Regions from separate parts of the Homo sapiens genome. Here region 2 is linked to region 1. Evidence: fine-mapped expression QTL. A gene starts in region 1. The other region holds a variant in brackets. All regions are shown on one strand. Distances are from middle to middle.

Region 1 (4,389 bases):
GAGGGCACACGGGCAACCCAGTCTCAGCTCCTGCAGCATCCCTTGAAGGAAGATGGGTCAGAAGACAAAGGCTGATGCTGGCTGCAGAGTCTGGGGAGCTGCTCACTGGCCCCCAGCCCAAGTGTGGTTGGAGACAGTGGAAAGGCGGTTCCTCCCGATGCCCATGTGGGCCTCTAGCAGGCCCAGACTGTGAAGGCCTTGGGAGCCCCTGGATAGGCAGGCACCTGCCTAAGTAGCTGCTCCCAGGCTCTCATGGCCACCCTCTGTCCTTCCTCAGGGAAAGAGCTACTGGCATCTCTCCATCACTGGTTATGTATGCCCAGGCGGCGCCCAGGCCCTGCCCAGCCCAGAGGGTGGGAAAGACACATCCAGGAAACTGTGTCTAGCAGAGTGGTCGGTTTTGAGCTGAAGCCTAGGGTTGGGGGTGGGAAGGAGGCTGATTGCCCTGTCCGAACCCAGCCCTGGCAGCATCCACCCCATGGGCTGTGGGCACTTGCACCTCACCAGAAGCTGGGGAGTCTGGCAGAATGACAGGGATGGGGGGATCAAGGAGGCACCTACTCCCAACACACCCCCGTGGCTGGGGGTGCTGGTCTGGGTACCTGAGACGGGGCACCTCCCACCTGAGCCTGGGGAGGCGCTAGACATTGTCCGTGGGCACTGAGAGGCCACGTGCTCTGCTCCCATGGAGGGAGCAGGGAGGAGAGGAGGTCCAGCAGGTTGGACGGGGCCTGGGGGAGCCCCACTGTCAGAGGTGGATTGGTGCTTATTTATACAGAGGATGCCTTGCAGAGTCGTGGGCTGTGAATAAGAGGCCTGGCTCGAGGCGGGGCTTATGACATTAGGGGCTCCAGAACCGGGGAAACATGCCCTCAGGGCTGCCCAGGCTGGTGCTGGTGGCGGTGTGGCAGGGAGAGTGAGTTGGGGCCCTGAGGGAGAACAGTTGCTCATAGCGCTTTGAAGGCGAGTGGGGGGCCTTAGTCTGAAGTTTCTTTTTACCCCAACCCTCTTTCCACTGTCACCCCCAGAAGGGCTTCAGTGTGTATGTGGGGCAGGACCGCAGCAGGGAGGGAGGGTCAACCCCTTCCCCCGGGGTCACTACAGAAGCGGAGGGACGCTCCTCTCTTCACGGCTGCCCCTGAGACCTGCTTTTTCTCGGAGCTGTGTGACAAAGTCCCCACCCTTTACTCCCCCACGGCAAGGAAGGGACCTCCCCTTCGCATTAGTCAAGGGGCGGCAGCTCGCCCTGTGCCCCGTACAAACCCTTGGCTGAATCGCAGTTGATGCTGTGATTCGAGTCCAAGCCAGTTTCCCTGTTACCTCCTTTGCCCTTAATGGAGGAAACTGAGGCAGCTGCGGAGACACAAGAAGCCGAAGTCCTAAGACCCAGGCTGCGAGCGCTGGCTCCGGGACCCGGGCTGCCGCTGACGGGCTGGGCCCGCGGGCGGCAGCAGGGGGCGCTCGCAGGCCGGGACGCGCCCTCCTCGCGCGGCGCTGGCCCGACGGAGCTGGTCCGCGAGGGGCAGCGCCTGGGAAAGGGTCGGGACCGGCTCCCCGCTCCCCGCTCCCCCACCTCTCCGCAGGGCGTCTCCACGGCCGAGCCGGGCGGGGTTGTGGTGTATTGCGACCCGGCGCCCCAGCCCCACGCCCGCCCTGCCCTCCCTGCGGGCTCCCGAGCGGCGGAAGGCAGAGCAGGGCGCACCGGCGCCGGGCCCAGCCCGGTTCCCCCGGGAGAAGTGTCCCGTCCCGGTGCCGGCCCGCGCGCTAGCTCCGCGTCCCGGCTCCCGGCACCCACCGACCCCTCCACAGCTGCGCGCGTCCTGCCTGGGGGCCGGAGACCCCGGCCGCCGGGCCCCTCCGCTCTCCCGAGGCGCGGCCGCCGGGAGGAAGGCAGGTAGAGGCGCTGGGCGGGGTCCGGGCGCGGGAAGTCCCGGGCTCACGCCTCCCGCGAAGCGCACCTTCAGCCCACCTCGGTCCGCCCACCGCCCCGCCTCCCGCCCGCTCCCGCGCCCGCCTCCAGTCTCCGCCTTCCTCCAGCCGCTCTCCCCGCTCCCCACTCCCCTGCAGGCGCGGCTGGGGCGAAAGCCTGCGAGCTGAGCGGGCGCAAGGTCCTCCGCGCCTCCTTTAAGAACCGGCCCAGCCCGGCCCGCGCCCCCAGAGCGTACGGCATCCGCGTGGCGGGAGGGCGCGACTTTCTCCGGTCCCGGGCGGGACGGGGACGGCGGCGGGACAACTTGGGAAACTTCTCTGGGGCGGACGGCAGGGACCCCGGGCACCGGTGGAGGAGGATGTAGGAGGGCGGCTGCTGGTCCTGGGTGTTCCCGACCTCCTAGGCCCCGCTCGTCCAGGCCATGGGGCTCCAGCGCCCTCGGCGCCGCCCGAGGGGCGACGCTCTTGTCTAGCCGAGCCGGGCAGCGCTGTCGTCCACGGTGCGCACTGGGCGGGCAGCGCTCCCTCTGCCCACCTCCCGCCCCGTCATGGACCACCAGGACCCCTACTCCGTGCAGGCCACAGCGGCCATAGCGGCGGCCATCACCTTCCTCATTCTCTTTACCATCTTCGGCAACGCTCTGGTCATCCTGGCTGTGTTGACCAGCCGCTCGCTGCGCGCCCCTCAGAACCTGTTCCTGGTGTCGCTGGCCGCCGCCGACATCCTGGTGGCCACGCTCATCATCCCTTTCTCGCTGGCCAACGAGCTGCTGGGCTACTGGTACTTCCGGCGCACGTGGTGCGAGGTGTACCTGGCGCTCGACGTGCTCTTCTGCACCTCGTCCATCGTGCACCTGTGCGCCATCAGCCTGGACCGCTACTGGGCCGTGAGCCGCGCGCTGGAGTACAACTCCAAGCGCACCCCGCGCCGCATCAAGTGCATCATCCTCACTGTGTGGCTCATCGCCGCCGTCATCTCGCTGCCGCCCCTCATCTACAAGGGCGACCAGGGCCCCCAGCCGCGCGGGCGCCCCCAGTGCAAGCTCAACCAGGAGGCCTGGTACATCCTGGCCTCCAGCATCGGATCTTTCTTTGCTCCTTGCCTCATCATGATCCTTGTCTACCTGCGCATCTACCTGATCGCCAAACGCAGCAACCGCAGAGGTCCCAGGGCCAAGGGGGGGCCTGGGCAGGGTGAGTCCAAGCAGCCCCGACCCGACCATGGTGGGGCTTTGGCCTCAGCCAAACTGCCAGCCCTGGCCTCTGTGGCTTCTGCCAGAGAGGTCAACGGACACTCGAAGTCCACTGGGGAGAAGGAGGAGGGGGAGACCCCTGAAGATACTGGGACCCGGGCCTTGCCACCCAGTTGGGCTGCCCTTCCCAACTCAGGCCAGGGCCAGAAGGAGGGTGTTTGTGGGGCATCTCCAGAGGATGAAGCTGAAGAGGAGGAAGAGGAGGAGGAGGAGGAGGAAGAGTGTGAACCCCAGGCAGTGCCAGTGTCTCCGGCCTCAGCTTGCAGCCCCCCGCTGCAGCAGCCACAGGGCTCCCGGGTGCTGGCCACCCTACGTGGCCAGGTGCTCCTGGGCAGGGGCGTGGGTGCTATAGGTGGGCAGTGGTGGCGTCGACGGGCGCAGCTGACCCGGGAGAAGCGCTTCACCTTCGTGCTGGCTGTGGTCATTGGCGTTTTTGTGCTCTGCTGGTTCCCCTTCTTCTTCAGCTACAGCCTGGGAGCCATCTGCCCGAAGCACTGCAAGGTGCCCCATGGCCTCTTCCAGTTCTTCTTCTGGATCGGCTACTGCAACAGCTCACTGAACCCTGTTATCTACACCATCTTCAACCAGGACTTCCGCCGTGCCTTCCGGAGGATCCTGTGCCGCCCGTGGACCCAGACGGCCTGGTGAGCCCGCCTGCGCTGCCCCTGTGGGGTTGGTGCGGTGGCGCCGGGGTCACCCTGCTTCTTGCCCTGCTGTGTGTGGCTGCCTCCCCTGGGCTTTCTGCTCCCTGCCCAGATCCTGTAGGCCTCATCTTAGGAACCCCTTGGGAGGGGTGGGCAGGGGGGCTGCTAGCAAGGGTCCCAGTGAAGCTTCCCCTTGCCGGCTTAGCTGTGGGGGACCCCTTCTCCACCCTCTCCCTGAGCACAGGCCGATGGAGGTGGTTCAAATCCTCTGGAACATAGCCAAGACCAGGAGAAGAGAGAGCACTTTCTTCCCAGAGCCCCATGCTCTCCAGACCAATGTCTGGGCTTCCCTTTCTTGAGGACCTTGTGTTCCTGGCAGGTCACTTGCTTGTGGTGTTTTCGTTTCTTTTTCATCTCCCCCCCACCCACAAAGAGCACGGAGCCAGCCTTCCACTTTTCCCAGTGGGGCCTGCTGCTGAGGGGGAGGAAGAAACGAAGACTGATCACCCACGCTAGGCACTCGCGGTCCCTGGCAGGCGCTGGGATGGGGGCTTATGGGGTGG
Region 2 (4,389 bases), 220 kb after region 1:
TTTAGTTTAGTTTTTGACATATGAGAAATCGTACCATGTTTGAAATTGCAAGGGCATATTTCATGGAGCCTGTATTCCCTTTTCTCAGTGTATTTCTGTCATGTTCTAGTCCCCAGACACAAAGTAGAAGCCATCAAAGCCTGCGCTAATACACGCAGGAGGACAGAGTATGATGCTAACTCTGCATGAATGTATGGATATCTTTGTCATATTTACATATGAGTGATTATGAATCCCTTTTGCTTTTCAGTGTCTTCTCAGAAACCACCAGCCTTGAAGGTAATGAAACTCTCATTTATATTGTGAACGAGTTAATGTATGGTCTATGAAACATATTTTATTTATTATTTCATTTCCAATTCCATTCAGGCTACAAGTGACGAGGAAGATTCTGTTTTGAATATAGCCAGAGAAAAAAAGGATGGAGAAAAATCTAGAACAGGTAATTTTGAAAACAGATTTAATGTCATGTTCAGTCCAGATAGATAAGAAGTCCCCTTCCCCAAATAAATCAGCGGGGGGCTCGTCGAAGCTGCACTTCCTGATTCAGCAGGCTGGAGGTTCTTCATTTGTAGTAAGTTCTTGGGTGATGCTGATGCTGCTGGTCTGGAACATGACCTTGGCTGTAAGATTATACAGTTCCCCACATTGAAGTTGGGAAGAAGATATATGGAGAGCAGTTGAAGACATAAGGGGCTCTGGGGAACAGCATAGTTTTGCTTTAATTCTCCAGCTTGTTCTCAGTAAGGGTGGAAGGAGAAAGAGAGGAAGTATCGATTTTACAGATGTCACATCGTACTGCTAAGAACAGACAGAAAACTTGTTGTAATAACCCATATACACTGTAGGAGAACTAAGGAGGCCCCTGGTGTAGCAATCATTTTCCCAAGGATGACGGATTGTGAGGCAGGAAGGTGTGAAAAGAGGCAGTCATTTATATAATTTTGGGGTTTCCGCTGAGGAAACCTGAGTGAACTCACTTCAGATGCATTTGGAATATTTTAATAAAAAATACTTGATTTTGGCTGCTGCAGGAACTGCTGGAAGAAGGAAACAATCCTAGAATTGGCATAAAAACACACACACTGACTCATTACTCCTCTTTGTTACTATTAGGCATCAGAGATACATGTTTTGTTGATTTTAGTTACAGAAATGAGACAAAGTTGAATCTGAATACATTGGCTTCCTTGTTCAAGGAGCTACCTCTTGGATACAATAGCTATTTCATGAAACTTCTTTAGAGAACAACATGATACTCCCAACAAGGCTATTTTAGAAACAAAAATTATGCTGGATTCTAATTAACTCCTAAAATGGTCATTTTCAATGAATATTGCACTGATTTCTGAATGAAAAACTGATCAATATCTAATGCTTGCAGCAGTTTTACTTTGTATATGTATGTCAAAATTGATAATTGATGATATTTTTATTGAGGCTAATATATTATCCTTTGTTGCCACGACTGGATGAAGAAACTTTCGGAAGGCTAAACTAGTGGATACAAGAAACTTAGGCAGATTATTACACCATATGGTTGAGAGAGATAATGAATATTATCTACTAGGTATCAGCAAACAGATATCCAAGGTGATTAATTTAGCACACTTCCACTGAAGTGATGTGAAGTGTACGTTCAACTGAATTGTCGTCGTAATTGTGTGCCTTCTCAGTTATTGGGCAAGTTAAAGAGCACGATGAATGTTTGTATTATAATGGTGTAAATCCTTTTAATTTGTTGCATGAAAGGTAAGTGGGATCATGTAGCACCTGCTTTGACATTGATTCTCAGGTGTATGTGTTGCTCCTCTGATTTTAGATCACTTTGACCTCATCACTCGGCATATCCACGTTGATATTGACATGGTTTTATTTTAGTTTTTGGCATATGACAAATCATACCATGTTTGAAATTCTAAGACTATATTTCGTGGAGCCTGTATTCCCTTTTCTCAGCATATTTCTGTCATGTTCTAGTCCCCAGACACAAAGTAGAAGCCATCAAAGCCTACGCTAATACAGGCAGGAGGACGGAGGTTGATGCTAACACTGCATGAATATGTGGATAATTTTGTCATTTTTACATATGAGTGATTATGAATCCCTTTTACTTTTCAGTGTCTTCTGAGCAACCACCAGGCTTGAAGGTAATGAAACTGTCATTTATATTGTGAACTAGTAAATGTATAGTCTATGAAACATACTTTATTAATTTATTATTTCATTTCAAATTCCATTCAGGCTACAAGAGATGAGAAAGATTCTCTTTTGAATATAGCCAGAGGAAAAAAGCATGGAGAAAAAACTAGGAGAGGTAATTTTGAAAAGAGATTTAATGTCATGTTCAGTCCAGATAGATAAGAAATTCTCTTCCGTGAATAAATCAGCGGGGGGCTCGTTGAAGCTGCACATTCTGATTCAGCAGTCCTGAGATTCTTCATTTCAAATAAGTTTGTGG[G/T]TGATGATGATGCTGCTGGTCTGGAACGTGATCTTCGCCGTAAGATTATACACTTCCCCATATTGAAATTGGGAAGAAGAAATATGGAGAGCAGTTCAAGGCATAAGGGGCTCTGGGGAACAACATAATTTTGCTTTAATTCTCCAGCTTGTTTTCAGTAAGGGTGGAAGGAGAAAGAGAGGAAGTATAGAATTTACACACTTCAGATCGTACTGCCAAGAAAAGACAGAAAGCTTGTTGTAACAACCCGTAGACACTGTTAGGAGAACTAAGGAGACCCCTGGTGTAGCAACTATTTTCCTAAGGGAGATGGATTGTGAGGCAGGAAGGTGTGAAAAGAGGAAGTCATTTATATAATTTTGGGGTTTCTGCTGAGAAAACCTGAGTGAACTCACTTCAGATGCATTTGGAATATTTTCATAACAAATATTTTATTTTGGCTGCTCCAGGAACTACTGGAAGCAGGAAACAATGGTATAATTGGAATACACCACCACACTGACTCATTACTCCTCTTGGTTACTAGGAGGCATCAGAGATACATGTTTTGTTGATTTTAGTTATAAAAATGAGATAATCTTGAATATGAATAAATTTGCTTCCTTGTTCAAGGAGCTACCTCTTGGATAAAATAGCTATTTAATGAGACTTCTTTAGAGAATAACACGATACTCCCAACAAGAGTATTTTAGACACAAGAATGATGTTGAATTCTAACTAACTCCTAAAATGGTCATTTTCAATGAATATTGCAGTGATTTCTGAATGAAAAACTGATTAATATCTAATGCTTGTAGCCATTTGACTTTGTAGAAGTATGTCAAAGTTGACAATTGATGATATTTTTATTGAGGCTAATATATTATCCTTTGGTGCCAAGAGTGGATGAAGAAACTTTCGGAAGCCTAAACTAGTGGATACATGAAACTTAGGCAAATTATTACACTACATGGGTGTGAGAGATAATGAATATTATCTACTAGGTATCAGCAAACAGATATCCAAGGTGATCAATTCAGGACACTTCCACTGAAGATATGTTAAGTGTACGTTCAGCTGGAGTGTCATCGTAATTGTGTGCCTTCTCAGTTATTGGGCAAGTTAAAGAGCATGATGAATGTTTTTAGTATAATGGTGTAAATCCTTTTGATTTGTTGCATGAAAGACATGTGGGATCATGTAGCACCTGTTTTGACATTGATTCTCACGTGTATGAGTTGCTCCTCTGTTTTCAGATCACATTTGTCCTCATCGCTCATCATATCCACATTGATATTGACACGGTTTTATTTTGGGTTTCGACACATGACAAATCATACCATGTTTGAAATTGTAAGGGTATATTTCATGGAGCCTGTGTTCCCTTTTTTCAGTGTATTTCTGTCACCTTCTGGTCCCCTGAGACAAAGTAGAAGCCATGAAAGCCTCCACTAATACAGGCAGGAGGACAGAGGTTGATGCTAACACTGTGTGAATGTATGGATAACTTTATCATATTTACATGTGAGTGATTATGTATCCCTTTTGCTTTTCAGTGTCTTCTCGGAAAAAAGCAGCCTTGAAGGTAATAAAACTCTCATTTATATTGTGAGCTAGTAAATGTAAAGCCTATGAAACATACCTTATTTATTATTTTGTTTCAAATTCCATTCAGGCTACAAGTGATGAGAAAGATTCTTTTTCAAATATAACCAGAGAAAGAAAGGATGGAGAAACATCTAGGACAGGTAACTTTGCAAAACACATTTAATGTCATGTTCAGTCCAGATAAGAAGTTCTCTTCCCCGAATAAATCAGTGGGGGGCTGGTCGAAACTGCACATTCTGATTCAGTAGGCCTGAGATTCTTCATTTCTAATAAGTTCTTGGGTTATGCTGATGCTGCTGGTCTGGAACATGATCTTTGCTGTAAGATTATACACATCCCCA

Direction of the effects. Positions count from the first base shown, and alleles are read on the strand shown. Sizes are in standard deviations (SD) of each study's normalised expression.
For the expression in transverse colon of the gene that starts at base 2,056 in region 1, allele G in region 2 goes with a lower level than allele T (small effect, 0.28 SD a copy in GTEx).

What was found. PIP is the estimated chance that this variant, and not a neighbour inherited with it, causes the effect.
Region 2: its variant is the best candidate, but not a certain one, in a credible set for the expression of ADRA2B in transverse colon (GTEx, PIP 0.68).

The regions. Positions count from the first base shown.
Region 1 is chr2:96,114,238-96,118,626 of GRCh38, reverse strand. ADRA2B (adrenoceptor alpha 2B) reads left to right here and starts at 2,056. Exons shown (of 1, transcript NM_000682.7): 1 at 2,056-4,389. The coding sequence starts at 2,478. The coding sequence ends at 3,830. RefSeq lists silencers at 1,227-1,296, 1,337-1,796, 1,807-1,966, 2,067-2,156.
Region 2 is chr2:95,895,198-95,899,586 of GRCh38, reverse strand. ANKRD36C (ankyrin repeat domain 36C) reads left to right here. Exons shown (of 88, transcript NM_001393982.1): 57 at 251-279; 58 at 370-442; 59 at 2,122-2,150; 60 at 2,245-2,317; 61 at 3,997-4,025; 62 at 4,116-4,188. Among named protein-coding and RNA genes, the nearest start is that of LINC00342, 70 kb to the right of the region's middle. The variant G/T (reference allele first, on the strand shown) is at 2,462.